3 linked regions of the Homo sapiens genome follow. Changing the gene in region 1 together with any one later gene gives a genetic interaction. Each region holds a gene or a part of one and is shown in the gene's direction. Other genes may lie near its edges.

What was found.
Region 2: changes in THAP3 (region 1) and ACTL6A together harm fitness more than expected from each alone (negative genetic interaction), as found in Homo sapiens cells (one large-scale study listed by BioGRID).
Region 3: changes in THAP3 (region 1) and GEMIN5 together harm fitness more than expected from each alone (negative genetic interaction), as found in Homo sapiens cells (one large-scale study listed by BioGRID).

The regions. Positions count from the first base shown.
Region 1 is NC_000001.11:6,630,946-6,634,197, forward strand, and holds the end of THAP3 (THAP domain-containing protein 3), read left to right. Parts: intron 1-1,424; coding exon of another isoform or gene 1,425-1,445; coding exon 1,446-1,550; intron 1,551-1,850; coding exon 1,851-2,132; 3' UTR 2,133-2,617; downstream 2,618-3,252. UniProt on the Homo sapiens protein: Component of a THAP1/THAP3-HCFC1-OGT complex that is required for the regulation of the transcriptional activity of RRM1.
Region 2 is NC_000003.12:179,583,384-179,587,037, forward strand, and holds part of ACTL6A (actin-like protein 6A), read left to right. Parts: coding exon 1-65; intron 66-3,162; coding exon 3,163-3,249; intron 3,250-3,654.
Region 3 is NC_000005.10:154,896,617-154,900,270, reverse strand, and holds part of GEMIN5 (gem-associated protein 5), read left to right. Parts: intron 1-960; coding exon 961-1,080; intron 1,081-1,620; coding exon 1,621-1,831; intron 1,832-3,654. UniProt on the Homo sapiens protein: The SMN complex catalyzes the assembly of small nuclear ribonucleoproteins (snRNPs), the building blocks of the spliceosome, and thereby plays an important role in the splicing of cellular pre-mRNAs.

The DNA.
Region 1 (3,252 bases):
CCATCCTCCCACCTCAGTCTCCCAAAGTGCTGGGAGTATAGATGTGAGTCACTGCACCCAACCTTTTTCTTTGTTTTTGAGACAGGGTCTCACTCTGTTGCTCAGGCTCTGTACAGTGGTGCAGTCATGGCTCGCAGCAGCCTCAACCTCCCAGGATCAAGCCATCCTCCCACCTGAGCCTCCCAAGTGGCTGGGACCACAAGCATGTGCTACCATGCCCAGCTAATTAAAAATTTTTTTTTTTTTTTTTTTTAGAAATGGGGGTCTTGCTATCTTGCCCAGTCTGGTCTCAAACTCTTGGATTCAGGGGATTCTCCTGCCTTGGCCCCACAAAGTGCTGGAATTATAGGCGGGAGCCACCGCACCTGGCCGTGCCTGATTTCTTAAAGTTCAGTTCCAGGGCCGGGCGAGGTGGCTCACGCTTATAATCCCAGCAGTTTGGGAGGCTGAGGCGGGTGGATGTCTTGAGGCTAGGAGTTTGAGACCAGCCTGGCCAACATAGTAAAAACCCCATCTCTACTAAAAATATAAAAATTAGCCGGGCTGGGCGCAGTGGCTTGCGTCTGTATTCCCAGCACTTTGGGAGGCCGAGGCAGGCGGATCACCTGAGGTTAGGAGTTCGAAACCAGCCTGGCCAACATGGTGAAACTCCATCTCTACTAAAAATACAAAAATTCGGCTGGGCCTGGTGGCTCACACCTGTAATCCTAGCACTTTGGCAGGCTGCGGCAGGTGGATTGCCTGAGGTCAGGAGTTCGAGACCAGCCTGGCGAAACCCCGTCTCTACTAAAAATACAAAAATTTAGCTGGGCATGGTGGTGGATGCCTATAATCCCAGCTACTCTGGAGGAGAATCACTTGAACCCAGGGGGCGGAGGTTGCAGTGAGCTGAGATCGCACCACTTCACTCCAGCCTGGGTGAAAGAGTGAAACTCCATCTCAAGAAAAAAAAAAATTAGCCAGGTGTAGTGGCATGTGCCTGTAGTCCCAGCTACTCAGGAGGCTGAGGCAGAATTGGTTGAACCCGGGAGGCAGAGGTTGCAGTGAGCCGAGATCATGCCACTGCACTCCAGCCTGGGTGACAGAGTTAGATTCCGTCTCAAAAAAAAAAAAAAAAAAATTTAGCCAGGCGTGGTGGCACATGCTTGTAATTCTAGCTACTCAGGAGGCTGAGGCACGAGAATCACCTGAACCCTGGGGGTGGAGGTTGCAGTGAGCCGAGATTGCACCACTGCACTCCAGCCTAAGTGACAGAGCGAGACTGTCTCAAAAAAAAAAAAAAGTTCAGTTCCAGGGTGTGTGCTAGGGAGAAGCTGGCTGTGGAGGGGCACAGACCCTGGAGCTGGTCCCTGGCTGTTGCCACTCCCCTAGAGGGACAAGTAGCAGCTGCAGGAGGGCCCTGCATGTGCAGGGCTGTAGTGCAGACTTCACCCTGCCGTTCCCAGGTCCTCCCTGAGGCGGGGGCCGGAGAGGACAGTCCTGGGAGAAACATGGACACTGCACTTGAAGAGCTTCAGTTGCCCCCAAATGCCGAAGGCCACGTAAAACAGGTAAGACTGAGTGCAAAGGTGGTCTGTGGTTGGACACAAGATGACTTGCTCCAAACAAAATGGAAACCAGTGAGCACCCACCATGAGACCTGTGTGGCCGAGGCAGGGTGTGCAGCCTGGGTTTCAGAGCTCCCCAGTCAAATTCTCCACCATGGTGTGGGCACATCTGGATTTTGGGGGAGCAGCCCGGAGTGTCTAGCTGCCCTGGGGTTGTGCTGTGTGCGTGTCTGGTGGCCTGCTCACCATGGCCCGCCTTCCTGCTGGTGATGCAGCTCTAGGCTCTCACTCCCCTGTCCTCAGGTCTCGCCACGGAGGCCGCAAGCAACAGAGGCTGTTGGCCGGCCGACTGGCCCTGCAGGCCTGAGAAGGACCCCCAACAAGCAGCCATCTGATCACAGCTATGCCCTTTTGGACTTAGATTCCCTGAAGAAAAAACTCTTCCTCACTCTGAAGGAAAATGAAAAGCTCCGGAAGCGCTTGCAGGCCCAGAGGCTGGTGATGCGAAGGATGTCCAGCCGCCTCCGTGCTTGCAAAGGGCACCAGGGACTCCAGGCCAGACTTGGGCCAGAGCAGCAGAGCTGAGCCCCACAGGCTCCGGACGCAGAGGTGGCAGTGGCACCAGGGCCGGCAGAGCTTTGGAGCTCTGGCTGTGGACATTTTTGTCTGCTGTGGACACTGAGAAAGTTGGCCATGAGGCCTGCTTGGCCGGGGATCGAGACAGTAGCCAAGCTCCCCGGCGAGAGCCCCAATGCCGTCTGGGGGACGTTTAGAGGCGTGGCACTAGGAGTGCACATCTGTGAGCATGACAAGCTTATCCTCCCATGGTAACAGAAGTCCAGGCTGAGGCTGATTCTGGACGCTGTCCTTTCAGCACACGCAGAGCAAAGATCGTTGGAAGCCCCAGTGTGGGAGATGCTCCTCAGGGAGGAAGCCATGTGAGGGGGCTGGCTCTGTGGCGGGTGAGTGGTCCCCTCCTCCATCAGCCTGGACAGCCGCTCGGGGTTCTAAGGAGTGACTCCTGTCCCGGCCTGGTGTGAGTGGGCAGTGTAATAAAGTGTCTTTCTATACGGTGTCGCTCCCATCATCATTTTCTCTAGTGCCGTGATTCCTTCTAAGAAGACTGACTTCCGTGGCCGGGCGCAGTGGCTCATGCCTGTAATCCCAGCACTTTGAGAGGCCGAGGTGGGGAGATCACTTGAGGTCAGGAGTTCAAGACCAGCCTGGCCAACATGGTGAAATCCCATGTCTACTAAAAAAGACACAAATTAGCCAGGCGTGGTGGCACACACCTGTAGTCCCAGCTACCTGGGAGGCTGAGACAGGAGGATCAGCTGAACCCGGGAGGTGGAGGTTGCAGTGAGCCGAGATCACACCACTGCCCTCTAGTATTGTCACTGGGTGACAGAGCGAGACTCAGTCTGAAAAAAAAAACTGACTTCCTATTTTGTCTAATTTATAGCTTTAGTGAATTAAAGAAAAAAGTTCTAGCCTGATTTCCTAACTTGGGGTCTATTTATTTCTCAGGCAATGTTGTTTAATGTAGAAAATGGAACCCCAGCTTCACGTGAAGCCTTGTGGTTGAGTGAGGAGTGAAGGATGGGGAGGAGGCCTCTGGGGAAGGGGTTCCCTCCCTCCTGAAGATGAACACACAATACACGGAAGAGCGCCAGCCTCTGCTTTCAGGAAAGGTTTATTGTGGTGA
Region 2 (3,654 bases), on another chromosome or scaffold:
GAAACACACTAATACAGAGTTTTACTGACAGGTTGAATAGAGAGCTGTCTCAGAAAACTCCTCCAGTAAGTTCTGTTTGTTCTTTAATGGTATTCTTCAGTCATATATTTCCTCACTGATGGTGTAATTTTGTAGATAAGCGTCCATTTTTCAATAGATACATGATATTTTGTGTGTGCCTGGTATAGTATCACTAAAGTTAATATCCTTTAATCGTTTTCCTAGTTGACATCTATTAGTTTCTCTTAAATTATTTGAATCTCATTTATTAATATTTAAATATGTATAGTCTGCTAGGCACTAGTCCCTGCACACCAAGGGCTCAGTCTACTAGGATGGTTAGACATGCAGAAAATGATGACTGTAACATGCTCAACAATTCAGTATGTCATGAACGAGGTGCTGTTGGGAACACCAAGAAGCCACTACTTAACTCTCTAGGAGTATCAGAGGATAGCCTCCTGAAGAAGCTATAGTTTGAATGAATAGTTCAACTCATTGCTAATTTATGAAAGGATATCTAGATGGAGGGAATAAAACCATTTACAAAAATACTAAGAGAAGACAGGTATGTTCCAGTAATTCAAAGTAGTTGGCTTCTAGTCTTTACGTAAGTGGGGAAAGCAATATGGCTAGAAAGATGGATTAGTTTCCTAGAGCTGCCGTAACAAAGTACATGTTAGTGGCTTCAAACAACAGAAATTTGTTGTCTTATAGTTCTTGAGGCTAGAAGCCTCAAGGTGTCAGTGGAGCTATGCTGAATCTCTAGGGGAAAATACCTCCTTCTTCACAGGATAAAATCTAGCAGTGGACTGATGAGCTCATGTTTGTTTTAAAAAGATCAGTGGGTATATTATAATAACTTTTAAAAGAATAGAAAAACTCGGTTTGAGAAGGTAATTTATATAGTACTTCGGTAACAGAATGACAGTTATAATCTTTTAACTTTAAAATTTCTATCAGCTGGGCGTGGTGGCTCACGCCTATAATCCCAGCACTTTGGGAGGCCGAGGCAGATGGATTATGAGGTCAGGGAGACCAGCCTGGCCAACATGGTGAAACCCCATCTCTACTAAGAATACAAAAATTAGCTGGGCCTGGTGGCGGGAGCCTCTTAATTCCAGCTACTCGGGAGGCTGAGGCAGGAGAATTGCTTGAACCCGGGAGGTGGAGGTTGCAGTGAACTGAGATCACACCACTGCATTCCAACAGAGCAAGACTCCATCTCAAAAAAAAAAAAAAATAACAAAAATTAGCCGGACACGGTGGCACGTGCCTGTAATCCCAGCTACTTGGGAGGCTGAGACAGCAGAATCGCTTGAACCCAGGAGGCGGAGGTTGCAGTAAGCCGAGATCATGCCACTGCATTCCAGTCTGGGTGACAAAGCAAGACTCTGGCTCAGGAAAAAAAAACAACAACAACAAAACTTCAAGTGCTTTTTTTGTAAGGTGTTCTGCACTGAAGATTACATTTAAAAAACCTTATTAGTGGTTACATATGCCCTAACAATATCTATAAATCTGTATATTTAATAGTCTTTTAGCTTCCCATATAAAATAATGTTTTACGTGTGCCACATTTCTATTATTAAAAGTGATATCTAAATATATAGGCACACAGTTGACATCTGCCTTGTATTTTCTAAATTCTTGGAGATCTAGAGCATACCTGAATTATAATACTAATCATTAGATTGATTGATTGATTGGAGATTTATTTATTTATTTATTTACTTGAGATGGAGTCTTGCTCTTGTCCCCTAGGCTGGAGTGCAGTGGCACGATATCAGCTCACTGTAACCTCCGCCTCCTGGGTTCAAGTGATTCTCCTACCTCAGCTTCCCAAGTAGCTGGGATTACAGGCATGTTCCACCACACCCGGCTAATTTTTTATTTTTAGTAGAGATGCAGTTTCTCCGTGCTGGTCAGGCTGATCTCAAACTCCCGACCTCAGGTGATCCACCCGCCTCGGCCTCCCAAAGTGCTGGGATTATAGGCGTGAGCCACTGCACCGGTCTATAATACTAATGATTAGATTTCATAGAAAGTCCCTGAATAATGAATACAGATAAGCATGGCCCAAGCTGTGGTCAAGGCCAGTTAGAAACTATCCTTGTCCTTTAGGAGGTGATAACAATCTCTGAAAGAACAGGAAAAAAATTCTATTTAATAGTTACCAATCTTTCTTACCTACAAAAACCCATGTTTACCCTATCCCCAGTACCTTCTACCCACCCATATCCCATACTCTACCCACCCTTGCTGCACACATACTTATTTCACTTTGAAAAGCCCCAAAAATATGTTCATTTATAGAATAATAGGAAGATGTCAACAACTTGAGAACTGTCCCCAGAGGCAGATTCCTTGGTAAGAGAAAGAAAAAAACCTCTTCATATAGGAAGTGAGATATAGGGGATAGTACTGTGCAATAAAATTGTGTTATCAAGAGAAAATGAGAGTCAGAACAGAAGCACTAATTTGGAAGGAAATAGTATGAATAAAAAACTAACCTGATATCTGATGGTTGTGTTTTTATTTAGAAGGGTTGGGGTGAACTAAGGAGGGATTAGGATAGCATGAAAGCCTAGAAAGGAAGCAGTTAGAAGGTTGGGGAGGACTACAGAAAGGGAGACAGATTGGGATGATAATTAGGTTGGTGTTGGATGAAATGAAATAATAAAGACTTAGCACAGCACCAGATTTATAGTGTTAGGTGTGGATTTGCTATTTTAGGATAGAAATTGTGAATGCTATACTTCAGTATGCAGCTTTTTAAAGTTTGTATGTTTTCTCATCATATAATCGCATGTTAAAAGCCATAATCAAAGTACTTTTAAAAGTCTGTACATTAGTCTAACCTATGCTTGTTATCTTGGCTATTTCAAAATTACCGTATTTTAATCAGTGTTTGAACCACAGGGAGCCATTATGAAGTCTGTCAAAATTGAATTTCCTGGCTGGGTGCAAGTGGCTCATGCATGTAATCCCAGCACTTTGGGAGGCTGAGATGGGCCGATTGCTTGAGTGCAAATGTGAAGACCAGCCTGGACAATATGGCGAGGAAGACCCTGTCTCTATTTGAAAAAAAAAAAAAAAAAAAGAATTTTCTAAGTTGAGTCACAAGATTTGATTGTACTAATGCATATTCTTCTATTTCAGAGTATGCGGTTGAAATTGATTGCAAATAATACAACAGTGGAACGGAGGTTTAGCTCATGGATTGGCGGCTCCATTCTAGCCTCTTTGGTTAGTAGATGAGCTACTTTGCAAAAATATTCTTACTGAATTATACTAAATTTAGTAAAAATACAAAAAATAATTCCAGTGCTTCATTTGTCTGTGCATTTTATAACTGTCAAATGAGTGGAAGACCTAATGGAATAACCAGTTTTATGTGTTCTGATGTAACAAAATGCCTCTGCCTAATTAGTGGACATTTGTCAGCCTAATTTCAATGTCCCCTCTCAAACAGAGGTGGAAATATGTTAATGTATGCATGCCTTTTCTAATAATACCCCCATTGGCACTGGTCAGGGCTTGTCTGGAGTGCATTTAAAATGAAAACATTGCTTCTCAAGTTCTGGTCATTCCCCAGTCTGCAGTGAGATCTACAGTGAGGTCTAGGAAGTCAGGAATTGGTCTTGGAGCAAA
Region 3 (3,654 bases), on another chromosome or scaffold:
TATGTCATTTGAAAAATATTTGTTTACTGAGTTGTTCAGATCTTCCAAATGTTAACATATCTTATTATAAAATACCCAAAAATACCACATTCCTTACTATCACCATCAGTCTCATCAGAAAATTCTAACTTATGGGAAACTCAGGCACACAAGTGGTAGGTACAAGTTTTCTAAAATTCTAATTTTTGCTAGAAAACTCGCATTTTATCATTAGTAACAAATACTGTTGGTTGTTTTTAATGAAGTGATAGGCCTACTTTGTTCATTTTTGAGAAAAACATCTGCCAAATACCCAACACTGAATAACTGTTATTTATGTTAGTCATTTTTTTTTTTTTTAGAAGAAAGAAGGTTCTATGAAAAAGCAGCCAGTTTAGCTTGTAATTTGTTCATACAGGTGTTACCTAGAGACAACCATTCTACTTTGGAATGCAGCAGAGAACACAAAATGTTCTTCCCATTTGTCACACAGAATATTAAAGTGTTTTGGACTTGACGGATTTAGTAAAATTTGTAATTTTTACTGCTTCATTAAGGGCATTCTTCCTTTTTTTCCACTGTAAGAGCCACCGCCTTCCTTCTTAGATGCCAGGTTTCCCAATCACTGCTTTGGCACAATCAGTGCAAATGTCAACACATTTTTTTTTTTTTAATAAAAAAGCACATAACTGACTCTTAGCATTGTTACGAAAATAGTTTTAACCTCATGAACCCTCTGAAAGGTTCTTGAGGACCCCCTAGGAATCCACAGACCACAATTTAAGAACTGCTGATCTAAGTGAAGAAACGAATGCAGCATATGTTTCTAATTTGTCTATATAATGCAAGTGCAGTTTTTAAAGGAAGTTGGAACAATAAGACAACACAAAAGGGACAGTTTGTCCTGTCTTACAGCCCCTCCTAGGACCATACACAGAGGAGCCTTTTCAGATTGGCTAAAGGGTCTGTTCTTGCCTTTAGGGAAGCTATTGCGATTGCCAAGGCCCGGCTGCGCCCGGAGGACCCAGTCCTGAAGGACTTGTACCTCAGCTGGGGAACCGTCCTAGAAAGAGATGGCCACTATGCTGTAGCTGCCAAATGGTAAGCCTGAGGAGTGGAGGGATGCTTCCAACATAGGAGAGCTTCTGCCAGGAAGGGGAGGACAAGAATACAAGTAATAAGTTTAGAGGTGGAGGTAAAGCAGCAAGGAATTATTTAAAAGATATGTATATTCAACTTAGTTTCATAAGACTCATCAGGAACTACTTCCTGATTTATTTATATAAATCACTATAACTATTCAAGAAAAACCTCAGCAGCAGATTAAGAAATTATGCATTTTTCTAATGGTCTCTTATAACATCAAATAAAGGAACCTCAACCCATGCTGGATTGAACCCAACAGAGGAGTCATTCCCTCTCATTTTCCTTATGTCCTTAACCTATATGATATTGTTTCTCATACACTCTGCTGAGTTGTGTTGGCCTCAGCCTTCACAGGAACAACCGGGGCAGTGACATACCTGGGACCACAGGAAGGCACATGCAGCAAAGTAGATAGAAAGAAATGATTCCATCCTCTAGGAATGGGAATAAAAATCTGTTTGTGACATTTTCTTCACATTTTTATTCATATTATAGCTATTTAGGGGCCACTTGTGCTTATGATGCAGCCAAAGTTTTGGCCAAAAAGGGGGATGCGGCATCACTTAGAACGGCTGCAGAGTTGGCTGCCATCGTAGGAGAGGATGAGTTGTCTGCTTCCCTGGCTCTCAGATGTGCCCAAGAGCTGCTTCTGGCCAACAACTGGGTGGGAGCCCAGGAAGCCCTGCAGCTGCATGAAAGTCTACAGGTCAGTCTGTTATTTCATCTCCTAGTATACAAGAGGGAAGTGTCCCAAATCCTTTTCTAGTCAAATCCAAGTTAATAACCCAGTTGCACAAGCTGTGCCAATTTGGCAGGCCCAGCAAGCCCTGGCCATGCTATCCCACTGAAGTACTATGACTTGTTAGTTGCCGTATTCAGAGTAAGAGATAATATGGTCATTCACAGTAATTCCCATTGCTTATCTGTTTGTACAAAACACCTGTGAGCCGGGCACAGTGGCTCATGCCTGTAATCCCAGCACTTTGGGAGGCCGAGGCAGGCAGATCACTTGAGGTCAGGAGTTTGAGACAAGCCTGGACAACATGGTGAAACCCCGTTTCAACTAAAAATACAAAAATTAGCCGAGCGTGGTGGCACGCTTCTGTAATCCTAGCTTACTTGGGAGGCTGAGGCAGGAGAATCACTTGAACCCGGAAGGCGGAGGTTGCAGCGAGCCAAGATCCAGCCTGGGCAACATAGTGGGACTCTGTCTCAAAAAAAAAAAAAAAAACACAAAAAAAAACACCTTAGTCAGCCCAGGCCTTGGGTTGGCAGTCTAGGGTTTCTTCATTGATGTTATCAGCACTGTCTTCCTTGAAGAGAGAATGGTTGGCCTCTAACAGAAATCATGGAACTCTACCTGTAAATGCCCCTCTTAACTGTAAGCTATGGAAAAAAAACTGGGCCAGATGCAGCAGATCGCTTGAGATTAGGAGTTCAAGACCAGCCTGGCCAACATGGCGAAATCTTGTCTCTACTAAAAATAAAAAAATTAGCCAGGCATGGTGGCACACATCTGTAATTTGGCTACTTGAGAGGCTAAGGCAGGAGAATTGCTTGAACCCAGGAGGCAGAGGTTGCAATGAACCAAGATTGTGTCACTGCACTGCAGCCTACGTGACAGAGTGAGACTCTTCAGAAAAAAAAGAGAAAAGTGTGGGAAAATGGAAATCTCTTTATTTCTTAAATTTTTTTGTTCCCATCTGATTAAAAATCAGTAACATACCACTGCCTTTTTGACACATCAAAACAGATTAAAGCATTGGCACACTTACCTAGTTTCTGAAACATGTAAACATTTGATTCACTTTAGATAACTTTGTGAGATACTAACAAGAGGTTTTTTAAGTTCTTCATTCTCTAACAGAGTACAGGGCCTACAGATGGTTTTTAGCTGAATATTTAGAGCCCAAGGAACGTGGTACATGGGGAGGTAGCTTTCTAGGAACAGCAGAATAAAAATGGAGGTGAAAATAGGACACCCTAAAAGATAATGCCACTGGGCATTATTTATAAAATGACCAAGTCTAGAAAGATTTTAATTTATCCACCATCAAAAAAAGTTTCCAGAATGACTGTTTAGCATTTTATTTTTCTCTTAAACAGCATCCTTAACAAAGCAAAAAAACCTAATAAGCATATGCTAAATATTCTGATAAGGGCTATTTTGGTTTTGTGCAACAGAGACTCTTGCAAGCTTAACTGAGAAGATATTGTTATAGGAGTACACAAGGAATCTCATGGCAACTAAAAATCTAGTGAAAGTAGATTTTCTAGGCCTTCTCTGTGCTTCTGTTTTCTTCTCTCCCAGCCAGCTTCCTCTATTAAACCTATTTGGACATGGCTCCTAATGCCTGTCCCAGCTCTTGGATCTGCAAAGCTTGTCTATTCCAGCACCTTTGGCCCATTATGCTTTTATTCCTGAGTCCAAAGTTTGGTCAGGGAGAAAGAACCTGATGAGCCCAGCCCTTCTTTTCCTCAAACTAGGCTACAAGGCTTAAGTGGCTGGTCTGTGTGTGGCTTAAATCA